4 separate regions of the Homo sapiens genome follow, and regions 1, 2 and 4 are each linked to region 3. Evidence: fine-mapped expression QTL. A gene starts in region 3. Each other region holds a variant in brackets. All regions are shown on one strand. Distances are between the middles of the regions.

The links. PIP is the estimated chance that this variant, and not a neighbour inherited with it, causes the effect.
Region 1: its variant is fine-mapped to the expression of PDE8B in spinal cord (GTEx, PIP 0.97).
Region 2: its variant is fine-mapped to the expression of PDE8B in tibial nerve (GTEx, PIP above 0.99).
Region 4: its variant is fine-mapped to the expression of PDE8B in liver (GTEx, PIP 0.99).

Annotation. Positions count from the first base shown.
Region 1 is chr5:77,135,426-77,143,815 of GRCh38, forward strand. The region is part of intron 2 of ZBED3-AS1 (ZBED3 antisense RNA 1); the gene reads left to right. It also overlaps a transcript of PDE8B not described here. Among named protein-coding and RNA genes, the nearest start is that of ZBED3, 52 kb to the left of the region's middle. The variant G/A (reference allele first, on the strand shown) is at 3,754.
Region 2 is chr5:77,577,514-77,582,513 of GRCh38, forward strand. It overlaps a transcript of WDR41 not described here and the pseudogene RPL7P23. Among named protein-coding and RNA genes, the nearest start is that of OTP-AS1, 50 kb to the right of the region's middle. The variant G/T (reference allele first, on the strand shown) is at 2,353.
Region 3 is chr5:77,208,659-77,213,658 of GRCh38, forward strand. PDE8B (phosphodiesterase 8B) reads left to right here and starts at 2,022. Exons shown (of 22, transcript NM_003719.5): 1 at 2,022-2,606. The coding sequence starts at 2,268.
Region 4 is chr5:77,647,657-77,656,046 of GRCh38, forward strand. No RefSeq gene overlaps it. Among named protein-coding and RNA genes, the nearest start is that of OTP, 13 kb to the left of the region's middle. The variant A/C (reference allele first, on the strand shown) is at 4,777.

The sequences.
Region 1 (8,390 bases), 72 kb before region 3:
TTGGGAGACCCTTTCAGTTGAGGGACTCAAGACTTTCAGCCAGAGGAATTTTTTTTTTTTTTTTTTTTTTTGAGACGGAGTCTCGCTGTGGCCCAGGCTGGAGTGCAGTGGCACGATCTCGGCTCATTGCAGCCTCCGCCTCCAGAGTTCAAGCAGTTCTCCTGCCTCAGTCTCCTGAGTAGCTGGGATTACAGGCACGCGCCACCATGCCCAGCTAATTTTTGTATTTTTAGTAGAGATGGGATTTCACCATGTTGGTTGGGCTGGTCTCGAGCTCCTGACCTCGTGATCCACCCGCCTCGGCCTCCCAAAGTGTTGGGATTACAGGCATGAGCCACCGTGCCTGGCTGGAATTTTTTTTTTTTTAATAGAGACAGGATCTTGCTATATTGAAAAGGCTGGTCTTGAACTTCTGGCCTGCAACGGTCCCTCACCCACACCTCAGCTGCTCAAAGTGCTGGGATAACAGGCATGAGCATTGGCAAATTTGAGGTGCCTGGCCTCAAAATTCTCTTTCTGGAACTCCTATTAGTTGGATGTTGACCCCCAGGATCAAGCTTCTAATTTTCCTATCTTTTTTCCTCTATTGCCCACATCTTTGTCTTTCAGTTCTGTTTTCTAAAAGACTTCCTCAACTTTATCATTCAACTTTTCTAGCAACTTTTAAAACTTCAGCTTTCTTACTCTTAATTTCCAAGAGCTCTTTCTTATTTTCCAGTTACTTGTTTTCTATATTATTCTGTTTTCCTTTCATGAATGCACTTTCTCTTCTTATCTAAGGATGTTATTTCTAGTTTTGTCTTTGAAGTGTTTATTTATTCCCTACCTTGTCTCTACTTCCTCTAAGTAGCCTTTTCTGTTTTGTTTTTGTTTTGTTTTGTTTGGTTTGACTTTTGTGTCTGTCTTTCATGTAAGGAAACTTTTTCAAATGTCTACTGATTTTTGACTATCTGTTCTTATTTGAGAGTGAAGCACTAGCCAGCTAAATGACAAGTCTGTGGGCTTGGGAGGGTTTTAAAAGCACTTATCTAAACATCTAGTAATACAGGTCCAAGGACATTTATGAAGAAAAGGAGACTGAATATTTAAAATAGGTACCATCCTTGGAAATTTTGAGTCTGGGGGTGACCTCTCCTCAGCCTCCTCTTGTCCTGAAAACTGTCACCCTCCTTGGTTCCACTGCAGTGTGTATGGCAGTAAGGTGGCTTTGTCAATGGGAGAAACTCAGATGTCAATATCTGTTAGAATTCTCTCTGGAGAATTGATGTCTGGAGAGAAGAATCTTCCGGTCTCCCTCTTGAAGGGTATAAGCCTAGCTGCTGGCATTTTTGCAGCTGAGATGAGGAGAACATTTGCATCATTCAATATTTTTACTCTGGATTCTAACCCCCATCATATACTAGAAACTTCTGGTTCAGTTTTTCCTCCAAAAATATTTGTAAGGAAGGGTTTTCATCACTTTTTTTGGGCTATGGGTGAGGACTATATGTTTATTAAATAGATTTTGAACAAATCTCTCTATTTTTATCAGTTGCCTCACCCCAACTAGTGCTCAAAGCCTGGGCACTAGTTTGAGAGTTCGTACAGGACAAAATCAGTTTGCTTCTTGGTGATTTCATTCTCTGCAGGTTCTTACATTTCACCTTTCTCTATTCCGCTAAGGCCAGAGTCCTCTAGTTGCTTTTTGTCATCATGTATTGTGATGTGCGCTTCTGTTTCTCATCTTTTTGCTGACAGGGGAAAGGAGAGATAAGGTCTTTTCTCCATCATCTTAAGCTGAAAGTCTTCCAGGTTATTTTCATGTTAAAAGAGAGCATGCCTAATTCATAGCTAGCTTGTGCAGAACACCCCAGGAGAGACTGGCCTAGCAGGGCTGGGAGGACCCACAGGGGTGAACAAATGCAGCTGGATTGAAAGACAAGAGCAGAAAGCATGATTGAGCTGGGAAAGAGCTCTTTTCCAAATGGCCTATTCAAAAATGGGATGGGAACTGCAAGTGGGTTGAGGTGCACTCAGTCAACTAGAGAAGAAGAAACAGATATGAGATGCTCTGGCCAAGGCAGAGTCAAGGTGGACGCAGTTTATTTGAACTCCTGTCCAAGCTATTCTAGTGGCCATGTCAGATCCGCCTTGATGCCATCTGTTCTCAGTGTCTTCACGCAAAGTAAGAAGCACAAGCAGTGGAATTCCAGTGTCAGCAAGTGGCCCTCTGTGTACCCTGCAGAAAAAGGCTCCCTACGGAAACATAAAGTCACACCTTTGCTCCAGCTAAGAGCTCCACTTTGCCCTCATATTTTGTGGATCTTGTCCAACTTGAGCATTTTTCACCTGAAGGATTAAAATAGGGTGTGGTTTATGTGGGGGTAAAATGGCTACAGATTGATCATCATTAAAGCCAAGGAGAGACTTTTTTTCATTAAAGCAAAGGGGAGACTTCAAAGTCTGAGAAAGGCAAGGAGGACACCAAATCTACAGACTAACCATAGCAAAAGCACAGACATGCTGCCCACCCAGAAGCACTGGAAATAAGCATGGTTGCCAAGGTAGCTGGAAAGACCCTTTCTATTAGGTTGGTACAAAAGTAATTGCGGTTTTTGCTATTAAAAGTAATACTTAAAAAAAGTAATAACTTCCCTACTCCCCTTGGACTTCCCATGATAATAGTGACACAATTTTTAAAACTATTTATCTGAACATCTAGTAATACAAGTCCAAGGGCATTTATGAGGAGAAGGAGACAAGTGAATATTTGAAATAGATATTGTCCTTGGAAATTTGGAGTCCGGGGGGTGGCTTCTCTTCAGCCCCCTCCCATCCTGAAGCCACATGGATGGTTTCTTGTCCCCACCCTTCCCTACACCTTCCCTCTGGCCCTGCTTTTAGGTCTTAAATGGATTAAATTTTTGGGACAGGTGACACTTTTCCCTCTTGTCCCTCAGGGTGGTTTTTCTGTTGTTTTTGTTTTTGCTTTCTCCCATAGCTTGTATATTTCAAGTATAAAAATTATGTGAGGATGATCCGCCTGGAAGCCCTTTCCAGAGCTGAGTATTTCCAGAACAGAAGTAAGCAGGCTTCTTTCATTCTAAAGTCTACTGTGATTTTTAACAGGGTTTCCTTATTTCCTATCAGTTTGTTTATCAAAGACTCCAGCATGGAGTTTATTTAGGAAAAACAAATGACTTTTTAGGTTCCACTACTTGGCTGAGAGGAATTCATGTTTTAGGAAGCCCCAGATGGGAAAGCCTTGTTGTTTTCTTCTTTGAAATGATCTGCATTTTCAATTTTTTTCTACTTGCTTTTATTTCCCACAATCCAGACTCGCCTTTTCTACTTTGCCTATCCAACGATCTAAAACACTATGTAAAGATACAGATAAGTCTTGTTGATTCTTTTAAACATTAGCCATAATCCAAAAAAGAAAAAAGTCTTAGGACTATAGTCCTAACAGCACAAATTTTAACCCTGACCAAAGCAATTTCTATTTTAATTTAGGTTATTTGAGCTGAATTTGCAGGGCGAAGTGGTCATGGGTAAAACTAACCATTAGTTACCTCAAGCTTGCAACAATGGCAAAGAAATGTCAAGCCATTAATTAAAATGACTCCCACGGCCCCTCCTGGAATCAAGTCGTTCCCAGTTAGTCAACATCTGTCACAATCTGTGTAAAAGGGCAGAACACGCTATACCCCAGCACATTAAGTTAGAACACAGAGGTCTTGGGTCACTGCCAGAGTAACTTGTCTGTGGCATGAT[G/A]GTTGCTAAGCGAAACAGAGCATTCTCTGCAGGGAGCCCCCCTGGACTGAGGCTCCTTCTCTTCCCCTTTATTTCTTGCTAGGCCAGCAGGAGCCAGGCCGTGGCCTGCTGACTGCATCTGCCAGATGACTACCAATGTGTGAGTAAACCCATTCTCAAGCCCAAGAGAACCTCTCAGCTGAACCAGGCCCAAGTTGCTCACCCACTGAACTGCCAGTTAAATAAATGGTGGTTGTTTTAATCCACTAAATGCTGGGATGGTTTGTTATACAGCAGTAGGTATCAATACAGTGTACTTGTCAATCTAGGAATTCCTGTCTTGTCAAATCTGAGAAAATTCTCGGTCACTGTCACTTCAAATATTACTTCTTTCCCATTTTCTATTCACTCATTCCAAAACTCCTAGTGGATGTCTTTTCTGTCATTTCTGGTTCTGTCTTTTGTGATCTTAAACTTTCATTCATTGTTTTTCCATTTTTACTTCCGTGTTACATTTTGAGTCATTTCCTTAGTTCCAGTTTGCTTATTTTCTATTCAACCATTAAATATTTCTATTTAGTTTTAAGTTTCAGTGGCTATAAGTTTCATTTATAAAAGAACTATTTGGTTATTTTCTAAATCTGCATTTTGTTTTCACATGTTTTTCTGTTTTTTAATTTGTATTTTCCTTTGCCCTTGTAAATCATTTAAAATGTACTTATTTTATAATCATCTGTGGCTTGATCTGTTTCTTTACTTCTTGGGCATTACTTTTTCTGTTAATTTCATGATCTGACCCTCAAGGTGGTTTCCTCCTATGGTTTGTAATTTTTATTATGAGCTTATTTTCAGCAGGGATTTCTCCCCTCTGGTGAAGATCTGTATGCCTTGGGTAATGTGATTGTCACTTCACTATGCCTGCAAGTTTGCTTCTGATGGCATCCTACCGATATCACCAACTCTCAACCAGCTCTAATGTTTCTTGGTATTTCTGCCCACAGTGAAAATTCAGAGCTCACTTCAATGCATGGCATGGGCTTGGCTTCAAGTTTTTCTGTATGACCTTTTTTTAAATTTATTTTTATTTTTTTAAACCTATAGCCCAAGGACACGGGAGCTTTTTTTCCTGATTTGTTTTTGCCAACACTGTAGCCCTCAGGAACTCAGATTTTGCAAAGTGCTCAATTCCAGTTGCCTTCCTTACTCACACCAGAGACAATATTTTATTGGCCTGCAAGGGTGTTAAAATCCCAAGGGTGTTAAAATCCCCAGATCTCCAGGGCCTATCATTGGTCCAAACCCTGCAGAGGCTACAGTGACATTAGCCCCTACTTACTGCCCAGCCTCTGAGCTCCCTCTTTGTTTCTAGAATCTGGGGATTTCCCTTTCTCTCTGTCTAGAGATTGTTGTGCTGGACCCCTATTGACTCCAATAGGAATGGCACCAGGTTCAAGAGGCCAAAGAAGAGACCTGGAGCCAGCAAATGAGACATAAGATTTGATTTGGGGGAACTTATGTACAGGGATGGACTAGTGGCAGTGGGCTGGATAAGAGAACCACAACTGCTTTCCAAAAGCCTGCAGTTTATACAGCACCTTCACTCAGCACCCTCTCTCCAGCAACATCCACATGGCAACCCCCATTTCCTAGGCTAAGTTATTGCTGTCAGATGTGTTTGCCATACAGGCTGCTGTACAGAGTATGCTTAAGTTATTGCTGTCAGGTACATCCACCGTATATATACATACACATGTACGTATATATACACATACATGTATGTGTGTGTGTACATATTTGTACTCATATACATGTGTATATATAGATATATAAAAAAATTTTCTCTGTGTTTCCCTGTAACAGTAACTGAAGAGGGAATTCTTCTATATAATCTCAGTCCACTATATTGCTAGAAGTTCTCTTCTCTATACTTTTGAGATATGAATTTTACCTTTCAATATTCTAAAATTATAACAAAGCTATAAATTTTGGGAATTGGTATATGTTTGTTTTTAGAAAAATTGTTAGAAACATAATAGCAATGGGATGCTTTAACATGCTACCTTGAACCTTTACCAAATCAAGAGAGTAAAAATTAAGCACAAAAGAGGGATCTAATACTATAAACAAGGTAGATTTAATACATATGTATCAAACATAGTAACCTAGAAGCAATGAATATACATTTTCTGGTGCTCATTTAACATTAACGACCTTCAAGAAGGCTTTAAACAGCAACAGATAGAGTTGAGTTGCTTTGGCCTATTGCTAAAGGCATCTAACCCACCTGCTTTGTGGGAGGTCATCTGCTTTGAATCTCAACTGTATCCAAGTCAGATTTAAACTCTATGGGGCATTGGAATTGTCCTCTGAATCATCTCCAACTCTGCAGGATACATAATAGCACCACTTTGTTGTTCTGGAATTTAAAGACAGGGTCTTATTCAACTTTGGCTATTTTTGTGCAGTCCATGGATCCTTGAAACAGGACATTCTACTTTACCAATATCTGACTCATAGAAGACCTATCTATATACCTACCAGGTGGCTACTACCCAGTAACTCCTACCGCCAATACCATGACATTTGTTTTGAAAACCTTAGCTTATTGCAATATTGCTTATAATTATGAAACCTTAGAAACAACTGAAATGCCTATCAAAGAGAGAATTTATAAATAAAATGTAACATATTCACGTTCTATTTTGATATGAATTACCATAATATTCTATTAGGATATGAATTGTTATAATGGCCATTAGAAGGAATGGATTGTTCCCATATATAACATAATATATCCATGTATAAAGTATCTATATAATACCAACACGTAACATAATGTAAAGAAAAGAGATTCATGGAATAAAATGTGCATGTCATTGATATAAATTTTAAAAACACAGAAATAATACATTATATTAAGACTATATATGTATGTAAAATTATTACCAGTGGACTGATTTGGATATACACTAAATTCATGCTACTTGCTTCTGGAGGTTGCAGTAAAGAACTGGAACTGTGTCTGGGGATGTCACTTTTATCTGTTTTATTTAGTTCATTTTTTATAAACAATCCTTGAGGCAAATATGAGCTGTTAATAAATGCCAATTAGTCTTTTTGCATATTGGTTGCATTTCTCTTTTTTACAACTTTATTGAGTATAATTGATGTACACTAAACTGCACTTATTTAAAGTACACAATGTGATAAGTTTTGACAAGTGTACGTACCCATGGAATCTTTACCACAATCAACATTTGTTTCCTCCCACAGTTTTCTCAGGCCCTTTTGTAATCCATTTTTTGCTTAAACAATTTGTTTTCTATCACTATAGATTAGTTTTATATAAATGGCATCCTACAGTATGTACTCTTCTGGTGGCAGGGGGTTGTCTATCTGCCTTAATTCAGTAATTTCTCAAGATAAAAACAATTTTAAAAATCTTGGAACTGCTGAAAACAATCTGGGGCATATAATCTGTGATTCAGAAAGGGGGAAAGGAGGGAATCTGTGGAAAGCAGGTACCATTTGGGATAGATTCCCAAGCAGGAAGAATAAGCACACTTATTATAATGGCTTCCACATTCCCCAAATTATTCCCTTCATGTAATCTTTTTTTTTTTTTAATTTTGTGGCAGTGCCTGAAACTGCACAGATGAGAGTCTTTTGGATAAGTAAGCTACTCATTTAAAAACAGACGCTTTGCTCAGAATTTACTCAATGGCAGCTGGTTCAAGGAAAGCTTGTCATCCTAACCCTCTCCCAAACTTAGCTTCATTAAGGAAATGTGTGTTTGGATCATAAGAGAGAGGAGCTAAGATGTATTGAGGCATGGAGAGTTGGGGACTGTGGGAAGATCTGAGTGAGGCAGCACCCTAGGAGACTTCGGGGAACCCTAGGATATCGGGAACCAGAACCCAAGGAGGTGGGGAGGGCCAGAAAAGAATGTGAGAAGACACCCAAAGTTAATAGCCATCCCTTTCCTAATGTTCCCTATGTGCGGCTCCCTGATGAGAAACTGGAGGAAGAGATTCCCATCATCTTGCGTCTTCTATTCTCAACATCGGAGAACTCCTGTTCTTGAAATTCAACCTGATATCATTATTGCTCTGTGGATTAAACTGGCTCTTGTTTGCTAGGCTCAGAGTCCAAATACAAGATATAACATTGTTTTTATGGAAAAATGTGCCCAAATACCAAATAATTGATCTACAAAGAAAGTTTTGAAATGTAACCTGTTATACGCCAGGGATTTCTTACATGTGTAGATCTTTGTAACAATGAGCTATGTTATAATGGAAATATTTTCACAGATATAATTCTTAATCTATAGCCAATATCAGTCATTAAAACATACTGTTCAGTCTTGGGGCCCATAAGTGGAAGATGTTATGGAGAAATTGGAAAGGAGCCAGGGGAGACAAAGTAACTGATGAAAGGTTTTGAAAAATAGCCCTTTAGGGAAATGTCTACATTCATTCAGAGGAGAGAGGTGTATCAGTCTTCAAACTATAAAACGATGTTACATTATTGACATCAAGTCTTTTTTCTTCTTGTCCACAGAGGGCAATATTAGAGGAAATGAGTTTAAACAGCAGCAGAGGGGATTTAGGCTAGTCAGATGTCCCCAGCTTGAAGATGAGAGGTGCATTCTCAAG
Region 2 (5,000 bases), 370 kb after region 3:
TTGCTGAGGATGGAGGGAATAGAAATTCATCTAAATACTTCAAAGATTATTTTGGCAATATTAAATAAAAGTGGCCATAATGTTATACAACTGAGAAATTTTACTGCTAGATGTTTACCCTAGAGAAACTTTACACATGTGCACTAGGAAACATATACAAGAATATATATTGCAGCACTGTTCCTAGTGAAAGAATAAGAAAGCTGGGAGAAGCTCACCTGTGATCAGAACAAATATCAAACACTGACCTCAGAAACTACAGGTGCTCCTCAACTTATTATGGAGTTATGTCCCAATAAACCCATTGTAAGTTGAAACTATCATAAGTCAAAAGTGCATTTAATATACCTAACATCATAGCTTAGCCTAGCCTAACTTAAAAATGCTCACTCAGAACACTTACCTTAGCCTATAGCTAGGCAAAATCATTTAACACGAAGCCTATTTTATAATAAAGTGTTGACTATCTCATGTAATTTATTGAGCACTGTCCCGAAAATGAAAAACAGAATGGCTCACTGCCACTACCCAGCATTGCAAGAGTATCATATTGCAAATCGCTAACCCGAAAAAAGATCAAAATTCAAAATGCAAAGTACAGTTTCTACTAAATGCATATTACTTTTGCACTATTGTAATGTCAAAAAAATCATAAGTCGAACCATCACAATTTGGATATATTTGCAGAGCAATACGTACCCCCAGGGATTTGGAGAAAACAATAGAGACATTAGCCATAATGTCATAGAGTTTAACAGGCTTAACACTGTAGGGAGCTAGGTGGTAGAGGGTAGGATTCACTAAAATATACCAGTGAGTCAGAAAACCAGCAAACAAACAAACAACAGCAAGACCTGGGGGAGGGCAGTTTAGTATCCATAGTACTACATATGTTATTTAAAATGTCCATTTTCCAAGTAAAAAATGCAAGTCATACAAAGAAACAGGAAAATATGGCCCATACATCTGATAGCAAGCAACAGAAACTGCTAGTGAGAGCAACCAGATGGTGGATTTAATGGAAAAGACTTCAAAGTAGCCATTATACACATGTTAACAGGACTAAAGGAAAGCATAATTAAAGAAGTAAAGGGCCAGGCATGGTGGCTCACGCCTGTAATCCCAGTACTTTGGGAGGCCAGGAGTTCAAGACAAGCCTGGCCAACATGGCAAAACCCTGTCTCTACTAAAAATACAAAAATTAGCCCGGCCTGGTGGTGGGAGCCTGTAATCCCAGCTACTCAGGAGGCTGAGGCAGGAGAATCACTTGAACCCAGGAGGCAGAGGTTGCAGTAAGCCAAGATCGCACCACTGCACTCTAGTCTGAGTGACAAGAGCAAAACTCCATCTCAAAAAAAAAAAAAAAAAAAAAGAAGTAAAGAAAGGTATGATCATAGTGTCTCCTCAAATAGATAATATCAATAAAGAGATAGAAACTATAAAAAAGAGTCAAACAAAAATTCTGAAATTAAAAAGTATAATAAAAGAAAATTTTAAAATTCACTACAGAGGTTCCATAATAGATTTGAACTGGCAGACAAAAAAACAGTGAACTTGAAGGTAAATCAACTGAGATTATGTAAGCCAAAGAAAGATAGAAAAAGGAATGAAGAAAAATGAGCAGAGCCTCAGAGAAATGTGGGGCTTGACTAAGCTTGCCCAACATGTGTAATGGGAGTAGCAGAAGTAGAGAAGAAAGACAAAGGAAAAGAAAAAATATTAGAAGAAGCAATGGCTGAAGCCTTCTCAAATTTATTGAAAAACATTAACCTACATACCCAAGAAGTACAATGATTCCAAGTAGGATAAATTCAAAGAGATCTGTAAATAGACACATCACACTAAAAATGCCAAAATCAAAGACCAGGAGAAAACTTTGAAAGTAGAAAAAGAAAAATGACTCATCATTTACAAGTGATTAACAGCAAACTACACAACAAAACTCAATAAGATTAACAGCAAACTATGAAACAAAAGCAACGGAGACCATAAGATAGTAGAACAACATGTTCAAAGTGCTAAAAAAAACCACCCTGTCAAACAAGAATCCTATATACAGCAAAAGCTATCTTTCAAAAAAGAAGTTATAATAATGACTTTTCCAGAAAACAGAAACTGAGAAAATTTGTTACTAGCAGATCTTCCATACAAGAAATACTAAAGTTCTACATGCTGAAAGCAAGTGATCCCAGATGGTAATTCAAACACATGCACTCACACACGTTGTAAAGTTAATTATGTAATCAGAAAAGAAGTATAACTGCATATTTTCCCCTTTCTTATCTTCACTGATTTAAAAATTAATTGTATAAAATAAGATGTATGTAATGTGTTGTTGGGCCTATAACATAT[G/T]GAAATATAATATATGTGTAATATATTTGCCAATGGCAGCAAAAAAAATGTGAGTAGAAGTTAGGCTATATTGGGCTAAGGAAATGACCACAAATTGATGATTGTAACAATGTATTATTAGGTTTGTGACATCAGTAGCTATAATATGTAGAACAATAATGCTACAAAAATAGAAGAAAAGGAATAGAGCTATATAAGAGTAACATTGATAGATAGATAGATTAGATAGATAGACATTATTGAAATTAAACGAGTATAAATCTGAAGTTTATTCTGATAAGTAAATGTGTATATGGTGTATTAGTTTGTTCTCACACTGCTGATAAAGACATACCCGAGACTGGGTAATTTATAAGGAAAAGAGGTTTAATTGACTCACAGTTCAGTATGGCTGGAGAGGCCTCAGAAAATTTACAATCATGGCAGAAGGCATCTCTTCACAGGATGGCAGGAGAAAGAATGAGTGCTGAGAGAAAGGGAAAGCCCCTTATAAAACCATCAGATTTCATACGAACTCACTCACTATCTCAAGAACAGCATGGGAGAAACTGCCCCCATGATTCAATTATCTCCACCTGGTCCTGCCCTTGACACGTAGGCATTATTACAATTCAAGGTGAGATTTGGGTGGGGACACAGAGCCAAACCAAATCATATGGTAAATCCAAGAGCAACCTCAAAAAATTACAAGAAAATATAGTGAAAAAATCATGAAAGAAATGAAAATACTGCCTTAGAAAAATACGCTTAATGCAAAAGAAAGCAGTACAAAAGAAATGGAAAAAAAATATATAAAAAATAAAAAGTAGGCTGGGCACGGTGGTTCATGCGTGTAATCACAGCACTTTGGGAGGCCAAGGTGGGCAGATCACGAGGTCAGGAGATCAAGACCATCCTGGCTAACATCGTGAAACCTCATCTCTACTAAAAATACAAAAAAATTAGCCAGGCGTGGTGGTGGGCACCTGTATTCCCAGCTACTTGGGAGGCTGAGGCAGGAGAATGGCCTGAACTTGGGAGGCGAAGCTTGCAGTGAGCCGAGATTGCACTACTGCACTCCAGCCTGGGTGACAGAGCAAGACTCCGTCTCAAAAATAAATAAATAAATAATAAAATAAAATAAAAATAAAAAGTAAAATGGCAGATGAAAACTCAACTATAGCAGTAATAATATTAAACATAAATGGATTAAACAATCCAATCAAAAGGATTGTCAGACTGGATAAAAAATATGATCTACAGGAGACACACTTTAGATTCAAATATAGAAATAGATTGAAAGTAAAAAGGTAAAAATTATGTATTATGCAAACAGCAATCACTTAAAAACTGAATAACAGATACTACTAATAACAGACAAAAGAGACCTTAAAACAAAAAATATTATCAGAAATAATGAGGGACATTTTATAATGATAAAAGGTCAATCTACCATGAAGATATAATTATAGGCATATATGCTTCTGAAATGGAGCACCAAGGTGCATAAAGCAAAAACTGACAGAAATGAAGGGAGAAACAGATAATTCAACAATTATAACTGGAGGTTTCAATATCCCACTTTTAATAATGGATAGAACAACTAGACAGAAAATCAACAAGAAGACAGAAGACTTGAGAAACTCTATAAACCAACTACACATAACAGACTTCTAGAGAACACTTCACCCAACAATAACAGTATACATTCTTCTCAAGTGGATGTGGAGGATTCTTCAGTAGACCATATGTTAGGCCACAAAATGAATCTCAGTAAATTTAAAAAGATAGAAATAATACAGTGTATGTTCTCCAACCACAATGGGTTGAAATTAGAAATCAATAGTGGGAAAAAATGGGAAAACTCACAAATACATGGAAATAAAACATACTCCTAAATAACCCAAGACTTAAAGAAGAAATCAAAAAGGAAATCATGAAATACTTTCAGATGAATGAAAAGAAAGACTTCATACCAAAATTTATGGGATGCAGCTAAAGCAGTGCTTAGAAGGAAATACATAGCTGCAAAAGCCCACATTAAAGAAGAAAGGTCTCAAATCAATAACCTAACCTAACACCTTAGGATACTGGAAAAAGAAAAGCAAACTAAGCCTGAAGCAAAAGAAGAAAATAAGTAATAAAATTAGAGGAAAGATAAATGAAACAATTTTTTTAATTAGAGAAAAAATCAATGAAATCAAAAGCCAGTTATTTGATAAGATCAACAAAATTGACAAACCTTTAGCTAGATTAATGGAGAGTGAAGGGAGGACTCAACTTACTAGAATCAGACATGAAAGAGGGAACATTATTACCAAACTTACAGAAGTAAAAAGAATTATCAAAGAATATTATGAACAATTATATGCCAATAGATTACATAACTTAGATGAAATGGACAAAATTCCTAAAAGACACAAATTACCAACTCTGGCTCAGCAAGAAAGTAGACAATATGCATAGATATATAACAAGTTAACAAGTGCAGAGTACGCATGCGCCAACTTCCTCTTTTTCCGGCTGGAACCATGGAGGGTGTAGAAGAGAAGAAGAAGGAGGTTCCTGCTGTGCCAGAAACCCTTAAGAAAAAGCGAAGGAATTTCGTAGAGCTGAAGATCAAGCGCCTGAGAAAGAAGTTTGCCCAAAAGATGCTTCGAAAGGCAAGG
Region 3 (5,000 bases):
AACTGTGGGTGGAGGCTATGATGCCAGGAAAGGACTTACTCCTCCAGCTACTGGGAGTGCTGCCAGCAGAAAGCCCTTGGCTCAGCTGACATCTCCTAGGGGCAGTGCCTCAGCTGAAGAGAGCCACCTTGCCCAAGGTCGCTGAGGTGGCCTGCATGTAAAGACTGGTCCATGCTGGGGTATAAAGGCCCACCAGAACAACTCAGAACCCAGCCCCAACTCAGAACAACTCTGAAGCATCATCCCACCTTCAGAATCCTCCCTGCAGGGATGCCTGAGGCTTGGTCAATTTCTCCCTCTGCTCAAGCTTGCCTCCCTCCATTCCCTCCCTTTATTTCCTCCCACAAATGTTGACTACAAGAGCACTTCCTAAAAAGCCTCCCTCTGCCTGCTAAACACCATCTCAGAATCTGCTTCTAGGAGGACCCAACCTGTGCAGAAATTTTATGAGCAATTTGCCTGTCCATTAAAAAATACAGCATAGACTTTTTCCAGGTTAGCTGGAGATGGAGTTTTTTTGTATCAAAAAAAGAGAGCTAAACTGAGAAGAGAAGCAAAGGTAGAAGAATAAGGTTAGACTCTCCCTGTATAACTGAATTTGGGATTGGGAATGATATCTTGCTTCTCTATGAAATTTAGAAACTGTCTTTTGAAGTCTTCATCCAGTCACATCCAAGAGTGGTCCAGGAAGAAAAAGGAAAATAAGAATGAAAAAAAAACAAAAAACAAACCTTAAAATTGGATACTTCTTTGTGCCTTGCATTAAGCCTCTATGTTACTGCCCTTGTCCGTATAAGCAACTCTAGATAAAATCCTTTCTTAGACCATCTAATTTATCTCCCCGTGCCATTGTGAAAATCGGGCAGGAATTACTGCGGGAACCAGTGACTGAATGGGCAGTGGTGTCTCGCAGCTGTAACTCAGAGTTTACAAGGGAAGGATGAACAGCAGCCATCCTTCTAAAGGCATTCTTCCTCTCCTCCAGCACAGCTCAGTCTGTGCATGCCTCACCAAGGAGAATGAGGGAAGGCCTTGTTGACTGCCCAGCCCAGAGTGTGAGGAACAGCAGTTGACATGGGCGGCTGGACGGGATAGAAACCAGCATGAACATTTAGTGACACCTAAGGAAGAGGTGAAAATGGGGGAGAAAGCCAAGAACCATCAGACAGCTTCTTTCTGTTCTTGCCTTGGATCTTAGGGGAACGTATGTGTTCAAGGGTGCCTTCCTCCGCAGGGCCTCCCATCCCTTGGCACAAACTTCCAAACGATGAGTAGACATGGAATGGGCTTCTTCTGAAGACTGGGTCACCATCCAACTCAGCCTTCGGAGTAGGCGGTGGGGCTGGGGGAAGAGGACGGAACCATGAGGTCTCTCCATCACTTCCCGGGTGTGTTGAGAGGCAAGCAAATGCGGTGGGTGGGCCTGGGCTGTAGGGCCCCTGCCATTTCGGGAGGGGCCTCCTGGTGTTTAGCTCTGGGATGTGTGAAAATGTGTTGGTGAAAAGCGAGAGGCTTACACAGCCCTTCAGGGGAAGAGGGGCTGGGGCGCTGGGGGCGGCGTCGGGATGAGTGCAGAAGAGACGAGGCCTCTGGACAGCGGAGGAGGAGGGGAGGGCGCCGAGGCGCGGTGCCAGCTGCCGCGCACAGGGGCCCCGCGGCGGAGCCGAGCCGCGGGCACGCTCTGCCCTGTCGGGAGAGCTCCGGGAGCGGCGGGAGGGGCGGAGGGGCGCAGTGGGGCCCGGGCGGCTGCGGCCGCGGAGCCGGGGCACCTGAGGAGGAAGGAGGGTGGGAGCGAGGGAGGGAGGGGACGGGCGCAGACCGAAAGTGGGGAAAGAAGGTGCAGGCAGGCGGGCAGGCGGGCGGGCGCCCTGGCCCAGGGCCGCGGGTGCGGGAGCCCGGCGAGGTCGAGCTGGGCGGCGGCGGGGGCCGCGCCGAGGGAGGAGGGGAAGGCGGAGGCGCGGGGAGCGTGTTTGGGGCGCCGCGGCGGGGAGGGTGGCGGCCGCTGGTGCGCGCGGGGCGCTGTGTATGCGCGCTCCCCCGCTCGGGGAGGAAGATGGCCCAAAAGGGAAAGTTGGGGTGACGCGCGCGGTCCCCGGAGGCTCGGCGGGGGGCACCGCGGCCAGCCCGACGGAGCGGCGGACACACAGGCCGGGGGGCGCGCAGTCCGGGCGCCGCCGCGGCCGCCCCCTCACTGCAGGTGGCAGCGGGTGCGCTGGGTCCCGGCGGCCGCGGGCGCGGGCGGGCGCGCGGGGGAGCCCGGCCGAGGGATGGGCTGCGCCCCCAGCATCCATGTCTCGCAGAGCGGCGTGATCTACTGCCGGGACTCGGACGAGTCCAGCTCGCCCCGCCAGACCACCAGCGTGTCGCAGGGCCCGGCGGCACCCCTGCCCGGCCTCTTCGTCCAGACCGACGCCGCCGACGCCATCCCCCCGAGCCGCGCGTCGGGACCCCCCAGCGTAGCCCGCGTCCGCAGGGCCCGCACCGAGCTGGGCAGCGGTAGCAGCGCGGGTTCCGCAGCCCCCGCCGCGACCACCAGCAGGGGCCGGAGGCGCCACTGCTGCAGCAGCGCCGAGGCCGAGACTCAGACCTGCTACACCAGCGTGAAGGTAAATGCCCCGCGCTGGCACACGCCGTGGGGGCCGTCCGCCCCGTCGGCGGGGCTCGCACGGGTAGGGGGCTCCGGCGGAGTTGGGTGACCGTGAGGCGGTTGGTTTGGAGAGGTTGTCACTAAGGAGGAGTTTACTTTTCATTTGTGGAGATGATGGGAGCCCAGGAAATGTGGTCAGAAAAAGGCCCCTGGAGGGGTCCTGGAAGCGTCCTTAGCTGGTCCTGGGGGACTGGGCGGGGAAGGGAGCGCAGAAGGAAGCAGGTGGGCTGGCCTGTTCCTCCTTGAGGGCAGGAAGGCTGTGGCTTGGTTTATGCAGGAAGAGGGGTGGGGACCATTGAGAGCATTCGGTGGCCAGTCCTGTTGAATGAAATCTGAGCACTGAGCTGGATTTGCGTGCCTTGTAGGTGACTGGTGCAGTTGCAGCACCAGGATAGATAGTGCCCCATATTCCGATTTTTACCTGGGATTACCAGCCAGGCTGGAGTCTCAGCACAGGAACCGAGCGTAGGGATTTGTGAATGAATGAGTGTTCGTGTTTTAAGAGATGTGGGAACGGAGCAGAGTGGAACCTGTTGTTTGTCACTGTAACGTTTCTCTGGGTTGGCTGCATCCTAGACAGAATTGAGAGAACCGGGCCATGAGTTCGGAGTGTCAGCAGAGCCACCGTGAGGGGACGTGGTTTCCAGTGCAGTACAGCTGTCTGAGGATGATTCTGCACATACAACTGATCTTCCCAGAGAGTGGGATTTTGAGGAAGTGGAAAAAATTGTTTAGATGGTTAAAGCAGTCGCTAAATATTTATTTCTTAAAGACAGAAGAAAAATAATTATTTAAATAGTGTCCTCCCGTATGTTCTCAAAGTACCGTTAAATCCAAGAGGCTTTTCATTGTGTAAATCTGGGCACTGGGTCTTTTTTCCTTTCAGCAAACAAGATAACAATGGCATATCCTATTGTACAGAGAGAAAAAAATACTCCTAATGTCAGATAGAATCACAGCCTTTACCTGGTCAATAGGTTACCAAGAACCATTCCATGGATTATTTGTCAAAGACACATTTGTATTTTTAATAGTTAAAAACTTGGTCTTCATTGGATGAAGGCAGCCCACAGTGGAGGAGTGAGGAGAAGGATAACATGTTTTGGCTTCAATCTGGAAGTCCAAAAGTTTTTTAATGAACCTATTTTTTTTTTAACAGCATCTGATTGTTTAACATGAAGCTTGACTGATGTTTGCTTGTGGTTGCAGTGTTTCTCTGGCAGTAATCATAATCACCATTATAGTAAAAACATCGTTTATTGAGCACCTACTATGTGCCAGGAGTAAGCTTTCTCTCCTAACTATTGAATGTTAACAGTGTGATCTTAGCATAGCATGTCTGAAGACTAGAGTCTAGGATTTATGACAGTACAAACCTACCAGTTGCCCATTCGTTACAGAGGCATGTGCTGAACGCTATACTTTGCTTTTGTCAAGCTCTCTCTCTCTCCCCCTCCCTGTTCACACAAAGTTAGCTTTAGGAGCAATTTTCAGGGATGAAAATGTTAAATTTGGTGAAAATATTAAGTTGGGATATTATCAGTAAAGACCATCCTTTTGCCTGACGGTTGAAGACCTGAAGCAGTAGTTCAAAATTGTGACAGCTCATGAACTTTGTGATACTTTTTTTGGTTGCTCCAGAGAAATTGTGAATTTTTGTTTTCTAGAATATCTATAATCTCAGTTTAGTACTTGGCAACTCTAGCTACTCCATGTTTGTTCAGTAGAAGAAAGAATACTGAATGAACCCATTCTGTACATTTTTAATACTTCCCTCAAGAGGCTGCTTAGAGACCAAATGAAGTAAAAACTGAAGGGACAATGAGCCCCAATTATTAGCAGCTTGTATAAACTTGTATTAATCTCATTGCTACTTGGCTTAAGTATTAAAAGGCTTGACCTGGGTAGGAGTTTAACTCATTTTGCTTTATCAAGAAGATTCCCAAATAAGAGCTTAATTCACTCTAACCCATTACTGGGAATGTTGGAAATGAAACCCCTGGTTCATTGACTTAACACTACTTTGCATTGTGTGGATCTCAGAAAGTATATATTTGAAGTGAAATTTGAGACCAGAGTTATTTATGCAAATCTTACAGAATTATTATCACAGAACTGCCCTAATATATTTAATAGTATCCTTTTAGGCCTGTGACTCGGTGTTGTATTGTCTTTTCTCAATCGTAAAGTTCACATGTTCTGTGCCCTTTTGTTGCTGAGATAATTTTATAAAAACTTTACATTCATTTTTTTGTAGACTAAGCATTCTTTTTTTGCCGTAAGAGTTTGAGATAGTTGCTAGGCACGTGGTGGTGCCCCACCCCTTTCCAAAGCACACAGGTGGAAAAATAAA
Region 4 (8,390 bases), 440 kb after region 3:
CACTTTCCTAAGTTGCTGACATATGGAACCAAAGAGCCTTTTCTGTGTAGGAGATAGCTCTTTCCCAACTGCTTTAGAACAAGGATTTACTCTACCCCCCCTTAATTTTTGAGAGGTCTCCAAGTCACCCATTAAAAAGGAGATGGACTTTTACATATATTTTCCCAGCAGAATTTTTTTTCACACTCTAGGAAGCAGCTGTGGTAGGGAAGGGAATATGTATTAGTTAGGATACACAGGCTGCTGTAACAGAGACCCCAAATTAGAGTGGCTTAGAACATATAGGATTTTATTTATCTCTCACATAACAGCCCATGAAAAACATGCCAAGACCAATATGGCAGGAAGCTCTAAAAGACTGGGAACCTAGCCTTCTTCTTCCGTGTGTGTGTGTGTGTGTGTGTGTGTGTGTGAGAGAGAGAGAGAGAGAGAGAGACAGTGGCTATTCATAGGCATGATCATAGTGTACTGCAGCCTTGGGCTGAAATGATCCTCCTGCCTCAGTCTCTCCAGTAGCTTGGAAAACAGGCTTGGCCACCATGCCCAGCCCAGCCTTCTTTATTGTTCTCTGTCTTCCTTAACATATTCTTCCATCTTGCAGCCTAAGATGGCTGCTCCAGCTCCTGCCATCACCTCTGCATGTTGGGTAGCTGGAAACGGAGATGAAGAGGAAGGCTCATTCCTTTCTTTTAAGGGCATGGCTCAAAAATGCTTCTATTACTTCCTCTCACAATGCATGGAACAGAGTTTAGTCACATGGCCATACCTACCTAAATAGAAATTGAGTGCTATAGTCTTTACCTGAGCTGGTTAAAACATGAGAGAGAAGGCTCCATGGTTTTCCTGCTCTGGGAGGGGACAAAAATGCTATCTTCAATATGGCCCTAATTTATGACTTGACCCCATCTTCAGTCTTCTCTAATACTTGTACTGAAAAAAAAAATGGTGTGTGTTTGCCAGAGGAGGGATGGAAGGTGGAAAGTGGAGGCAGAGGGGCCAGGTAGTAGCCTAATGTAATAATCCAAGGGGAAAATGATGGCTGCTTGGACCAGAATGAGAGCAGTGGAGGAGGTGATAAGTGGTTGGAATCTAGAAGTATTTCCTAGGAAGCCTAGGATGTGCTTCTAGATGTGGGGTATGAGAAAGAAGAGCCGAGGATAATGCCACTCATTGATTATCTATTCATCCATTGACTGTTTTTTTTTTTAGAGACAGGGGTCTCGCTATGTTGCCCAGGCTAGCCTTGAGCTCCTGAGTACGTGGGATCCTTCCACCTCAGTGTCCTGAGTAGCCAGGATTGCAGTTGCTCACCACCACACCTGGCTCTAAATTGTTATTGAGCACTGGCTGTGAGCAAGGCACTGAGCTAGGGCCTGTGGATACAATGGGTATAGTCTTGCTTTTATAATTGACAAAAATAGCCAGCAGAGAAGTAAACACAAGTATGATGTATGTAATAAAAAGCAAATCCCAGAGGCTTTGAGATAATAACTCAGAGGAAATGAACCTAGTCTAGGGGTCTGGGAGGTGACGTCTAAGCTGAGACATGAAGTGTGCATAGGGAGTGGTCAGGAAATTGAGGTGAGCTGGGGCCATAAGGGGAAACATGTTCCTGTAGAGGAATTCGCTTTAAGCCCTACTTCCCTCCATGCCTTCATGTTGTCTACTTGGGATAGAATGAAACCCTGGACTTAGTTTATGCTTAGTTCATGCTATCTCTCTGAAGAGAAAATGCTTTTTGAAGTTCAATTCAAGTTAATTAAATTCAATCAACATTTGTAGGTTCTGGGCCAGGTTCCCAGCCCAAAGACTAAATAGCCCATGGTACCATTTAACTGAGAGAAGATAATAAAATTGAAATCATTGAATTTTAGGAAAGGCAGAGTTGTTCTCTATGAGGTCAAGCTAAAACTCAAAGGATTTCAACATAGGAAGATGTGCTGTGGTGTGACATGATCAAAATCTATACAATTCAGGATGGCAACAAAAATCTATACAATTCAGTATGGTGACGAGAGTGTAAATATAGATTAGGAGACAACCTACAACCTTCGTTTAAAGCATTTAAAAAGTCCTTTATACATGGGAAATTAAACGTGAGGAATGCATTCCCTCCAAGGGGTGGTAAAATTACTATATTTGTTGGGATGAGAGTTCAGTGGCTATAAAAGAAACAACAGCAGCAGTAACAAAAACCAACAGTGGCTTAAACAAGATAGAAGTTTCTCTCTCACTTAATAGTCTAAAGGCAAGAACTCCAGGACTGTCATGGTTGGTCTATGGTGTCAGCGACCCCGCCTCTTCTATCTTGTTCCTATCTGCTAGGATGTCCCCCTTGTCCATGTTATCCAGGATGGCTCACCACCATGTCATATTCTAGCCAGCAGGAAGAGAAAGGAGAAAGACAAGAGTATCCTTCTTCCTTTGAAAGCACAACCCTAAAGATGCACACATCACTTCTCAATCCCATTGTCAAGAACTTGGTCAAATGACCACACCCAGCTACAGGGAAGGTTGGGAAATCGTATTTTTACACTAGATATTCGTATTCCATGTGAGAACAGAGAGTTATATTAGTGAGAGACAGAAAGAGAGAACAGACACTAGAGTCTCTAGCAGTCTTTGTGGACTAAGGGGTTCTTTTTCTCACTCAGAACTTCCAAAGTTAGTGCTTGAAAGAAAGTTTTCAGGAGTGTGTGTGTGGAGGTACAAGGGTTGGCAGACACCCCTGAATCAGAGGCCTCACCTCCTTCTTTGGATTCTTTCACGTGACTTCCTGCTGGCACCCAGGTGCTGCTGCCCCCTTAAATATTTTGGCTGAAGTAAAGATCAAAACCTTTCCCTGGGCTTCCCTTAGCCAAGACTGCATGGAGTTTTCAAAGAGTTTAATATAGATAGATGTAGAGAAGACAAAGAAGAGCATAAACATAGAAAATACAAGAAACGTGTAACCTTCCCAGCTTACAAAGTCCAAGATCTCTATCAGCTCTTCCTTTGTCTAGCCTGGAAGGTTAAGCTCAACTTCTCCAGCACCTTGACCTCAGCCTTCATTCCCTGGGTCTTAGCTTGTCTCTGCATGGAGGATGATTGCTTTAATATTCACCTTCCAGGAACAACCTGCAGTAGTAGTTCAGGTGAGGTATTGTCCTTATACAGGATGAGAAGGAGCTGCCTGCCCTGGACCTTGGCTTTAAACAGCCCCATTTGGACCATCTCCAGCTGCAGCCCGTCAAGAGCCTGCTCTTCCCCCTGTAGACTACCTGGGGCCCCAGAATTCCTTGCCCAACAGTCCTGCTCCTGCTTCCAGAACTTCTGTGGGTCTCTCCCACATCTGCCCATCTGTCATGTGCACACTCCCAGGCCCAAGAGGCAGCTGCTTGTGATGAGATGTGGGGGGAGCTTGGACAACTGGGCTGGGCTGACCACTTGTGCATGTGAGAGGCCTCTTGCTGCCCTGGATGCAGCTGGTGGGCAGGAAGAGAAGGTGCAAACCTGGAGCTAGGGGCTGGGACTCCAAACATTATAAATTTGAACTTGAACTTCTAGGTTGTTATGAAAATATAGTTGTTAAGGTAAGAAGACAGGACATATTTCACTGAACAGTTTGTTAGCTTAATTTATAGTTTTTAAATATTTGGACATATAGTATGTGGGCCTCTGTTTGTACTCTTGCTCCAGGTCCTGCATATGTTAGGGTAGGCTTGGGCTGTCTTGCCACATATGTTGTTATCTTTAAAAGTTACAGCATGTGAGATTCCTCTTCTGCATCCTACTCTTCTAATTGCCAACGTGCAGCCAAGTCAGATTATGAAGGAAGGCCCTCCCTGCTCAGATGGAAGGCTGCTACCAGTATGCACACACACTAGCCTTTTGTTTTTTCTCGGACTTGCCATTCTCATTCCAACCTCTGGCCATGGTACCTTCTGCTTTGTTCCTTCTTCCTGAAGGATACATCTCTGGACTTTCACATGATTACAGCTCTCTCTTTATTCAGGTCTCTGTAAAATTTTATCTCTGTAGAGATGCCCTTCCTGACATCTCCTCTCCAAACTTAAAAGAGTCCCCCAAAAGAGTCAAGTAGATCCATAATTCGTCATCCTTTATCTTGCTTTATTTTTTCAGCACAGCACTCATCACTATCTGAAAAAGTGTGCTATGTGCTTATTTGTTTATTACCTCTTTCCCTGAGCAGAATGCAAGCCCTGTAATGGCTGAACCTTGGTCTTCATATCTTAGTACCCCTAGAGCCTTGTACAGTTTCTGATGCATAATAATGTGCAAAAAAATTTTGTTGAATGAATAAAAGGAAGAATGAATGAATGATCCAGTTGTTCAGTAGCAGTTGGGAATCAGATTTCCCAATTCAAACTAATCTTAGTGAGCAATCAGAATTATGAAGAAGAGTTTATTATTATTATTGAAATTTATGCTACCCATTCAGGATGGGGTCAACCTAGCCAATTCCATGTGTGTAGAGCAGTCCAGAATGAGAGTGGACAACTGCCTGACGATGCAATGTTAAAACGGCCCTGTTGGTAAAGAGCCCAGTGTGACTTTTGCAAATGAATGTAGGCTCTCCCTCTCCAGCTCTGTGCTCAAGGCTAAGCCCTGGAAAGTGAGCCCAATGCAGAGACTGCCTTGTTAGTCATTGGTGGTGAGGGACTCCATTTTTGGACAGGAGACTGGGCTGAAATTTGATGCACATAAAATAGAGGATGCTGAAGTGAAGGGTCATATACCATCCATGCCAGAAGAGTCCTTGGGAATTATTGCCTA[A/C]AATTTGCATCTTTAAAGATGAGACACAGAGGTCCCAGGGGACCAAGGTGGCACGACAACTAATAGAAATCGAAAGTGGGGCTTGGGTCTCCCAACCCCCAGAACTGTTTTCACCCTCCTGGATTAACCGGATTAGTGTCATAGAAACTGCCAGGATTAGTATGAAATTTCTATCAAACACTAAGCGCAGTGACACTTATTAGAAGAATCCCTACTAGCAGAGCTTCCCTAAATGATCTGTAAAATGGGGATAATCATAGTACCTGCCTCCTGAGGTTGAGGTGAATCTTCCTGTGGAGCACTTACAGTGCTGTGTCAATGATAGCTGCTGCTATGTTTCTTATTAACCCTTCCCATTCCCACCCATTCATGGACACATTTCCCATACCCTTGCTGAGAAGTTGTATTTGGCTACAGTTATTATGGAAACAAAAGGATTGGCCCCTGGAGCCCTGTTCTAACCCAGAATAGACGTATGGGGCGGTCCACAGAGCATAAAGTTACAACCAGTCCTGATGCCAATGGTCCTACAAGCAGCTCCCACAAGTCTGTAAGTGGCCAAGCAGCATGAGCACCCTACTATCCTGGGCAGGTGCCCGGAAACCTCGGAGGTGCTACTTGGCATGAAGCAACTGCTCCTTGCAGGGCAGGGATGTGCCACAGCTGCAGCCCTTTGAGATTCTCACAGTCCCGTTTTCAATTTGGAGCCTAGAGCTGAAGAGATAAATTGAGAATATTGATCAGCTCATCAGCTCACAATTAAGATGTTCTTTTTCCCCCTTCCGAAACTTGGTGTATGGCTGTGGTAAAGGGAGGAATGGCTGTCCCTCATAGCGACTGCACACAGGCTCTCAAGCCACTTCCAGGTTACCACACCATAATATTTTTGTTGTCATTCATTCTTATCTATCCACAGCCATCAAATATCACCTCCTTTCATGAGGGGATGGTGCAAAGTGGGCAGACCTTCAAGTGAGAAAGAAACAGGGATAAGCGGCTAGGAAAGGGCGTCCCACCAACACTTGTAGATCGGAACTGTCAAAGAAGTCCAAGTCCTCTGTCTTTCTGTGGAGCCACAAGATCTGGAGAAAGGGAAGTGTGTTCATCTCAGGAAAAGATTGAGGACTCAACTTGAGAAAAAGAAAAAGGGGGTAGTGGTGGAATAAAGAAGTAGGCAGCATCAAATCTGTTCAGGCCACATCTTGGCAGAATACTATGCCTGCCCTCTTTGCTTCCAGAATTTCAAGGCCAGGTGACATAGCATCATAAAACTTTAAACCTTATTGCTGTTAGAAAATAAACATGTGTGTGCACATGCACACACACATACACACACACAGACACACAAATACTACTGTCTAAGCTCACAAGCACTGGCATTACCTGACCCCTGTTTATCTCTCTACCTCCACTTCTGATTGGTAGGACACACACCAGCCACCTTAGCCTCCTGAAAATTCATAAAATAATTTTTCCTATGATTCAAGGCCCTTACACATGATTTTCCCTTTCCACTCAGTGCTCTTCCCCTATTCTTCACATAGCAGGCTTCTTCTTGGCTTTCAGACCTCAGTTGAAATCTCGCCTTCCAGGCAAGGCCTTTCTCATCTTTCTCCCACCAGGCCCTTTCCTCTCTGGGGTTCCCTTCTATCCCAGGACCCCACTATCACCCCCATAGCCCTCTCCCAAGGTTATTATTGAGTTAAGTGTCTGCTTGCTTATTGTCTCTCCCATTTCAAAATGATTTCTCTGAGGGAAGGACCATATCTGTTTTCTGCCCAGAATACAATAGGTACTCAAGTGTCCACCCAGCTGCTCCAATCAAAAGGATTAAAGTCACCCTCAAATCATCACTTGTTACCACCCAGACATACAATTCAATGGCAAACCTTCTTGGCTTTATTTTCAAAATATATCCCAAGATCTCCCCACCTTCACGGTCACAGGTTCAAGCCACTATATAGGGTACCTGGATTACTGCAACAGCTGAATAGCCTCCTCCTCTTGTCCCCACCTCTGTCCTTGCACCTCTCCATGCTACCCCCAGCACAGCAGTTGGAATGGAAGTCCAATTATGTCACTCCCCTGGGCAAACCCTCCACCAAAAATGGACAAATGAGATCACTTCAAGTTAAAAAGTTTCTGCACAGCAAAGGATACAATCAACAAAGGCAGGGGACAACCCACAGAATGGGAGAAAACATTTGGAAACTATCCATCTGACAAGGAATTAATAAGCAGAATATATGGAGCTCAAACAACTCTATAGGGAAAAGTCTAATCTGATCAAAAAATGGGCAAAATATTCGAATAGACATTTCTCAAAAGAAGACATACAAATGGCAAACAGGCATATGAAAAGCTGCTTGACATTACTGATCATCATAGAGATGCAAATCAAAACTATAATGAGGTATCATCTCACTCTAGTTAAAATGGCTTTTATCCAAAAGACAGGCAATAACAAATGCTGGCTAGGATATGGAGAAATGGGAATCCTTGTATGTTGGTGGGAATGTAAATTAGTGTGGGGAACAGTTTGGAGGTTCTTCATAATGTTGACATGATATACCCCACTGATTGATTTGCATATGTTGAACCATCCTTGCATCCCTAGGATAAATCCCACTTGGTCATGATGAATGATCTTTTCTATTTATTTACTAATTTATTTAATGTATTTATTTTGAGACAGAGTCTCACTCTGTAATCCAGGCTGGAGTGCAGTGGTGCAATCTCAGCTCACTGCAACCTCTGCCTCCTGGGTTTAAGCAATTCTCCTGCCTCAGCCTCCTGAGTAGCTGGGAATCCAGGTGCACACCACCACGCCCAGCCAATTTTTTATTTTTATTTTTAGTAGAAACAGGGTTTCACCATGTTGGCCAGGCTGGTTTCAAACTCCTGGCCTCAAGTGATCTGCCTGCCTTGGCCTCTCAGAGTGCTGGGATTACAGGCATGAGCCACCACTCCTGGTGAGTGATCTTTTTAATGTGTTGTTGAATTTGGTTTGCTAGTATTTTACTGAGGATTTTTGCATCAATGTTCATCAGGGATATTAGCCTAGAGTTTTCTTTTTTGGATGTATCTTTGTCTGGTTTTGGTATCAAGGCAATACCGACCTCGTAGTATATGTTTGTAAGTATTCCCTCATCTATTTTTCACATTAGTTTGAGTAGGATTGGTATTTACCACTTCTTTCAATGTTTGGTAAAATTCAGCAGTGAAGCCATCAGATCCCAGACTTTCCTTTGCTAGGAGACTTTTTATCATGGCTTTGATCTGGATACTTGTTTTTGGTCTGTACAGATTTTGGATTTCTTCATGCTTCAATCTTGGTAGGTTGTAGGTGACTAAGAATTTATTCAGTTCTTCTACATTTTTCAATGTATTAGCAGATAGTTGCTCATAGTAGCCTCTAGTGATCCTTTGAATTTCTGCAGTATCAGTTGTAATGTCTCCTTTTTCATCTCTGATTTTATTTATTTAGGTCTTCTCTCTTTTTTCCTTAATTAGTCTGACTAAAAGTTTGTTGATTTTGTTTAACTTTTTAAAAAACCAACACTTTGTTTCATTTGATCTTTTGTGTTGTTTTCTTCATTTCAATTTCATTTATT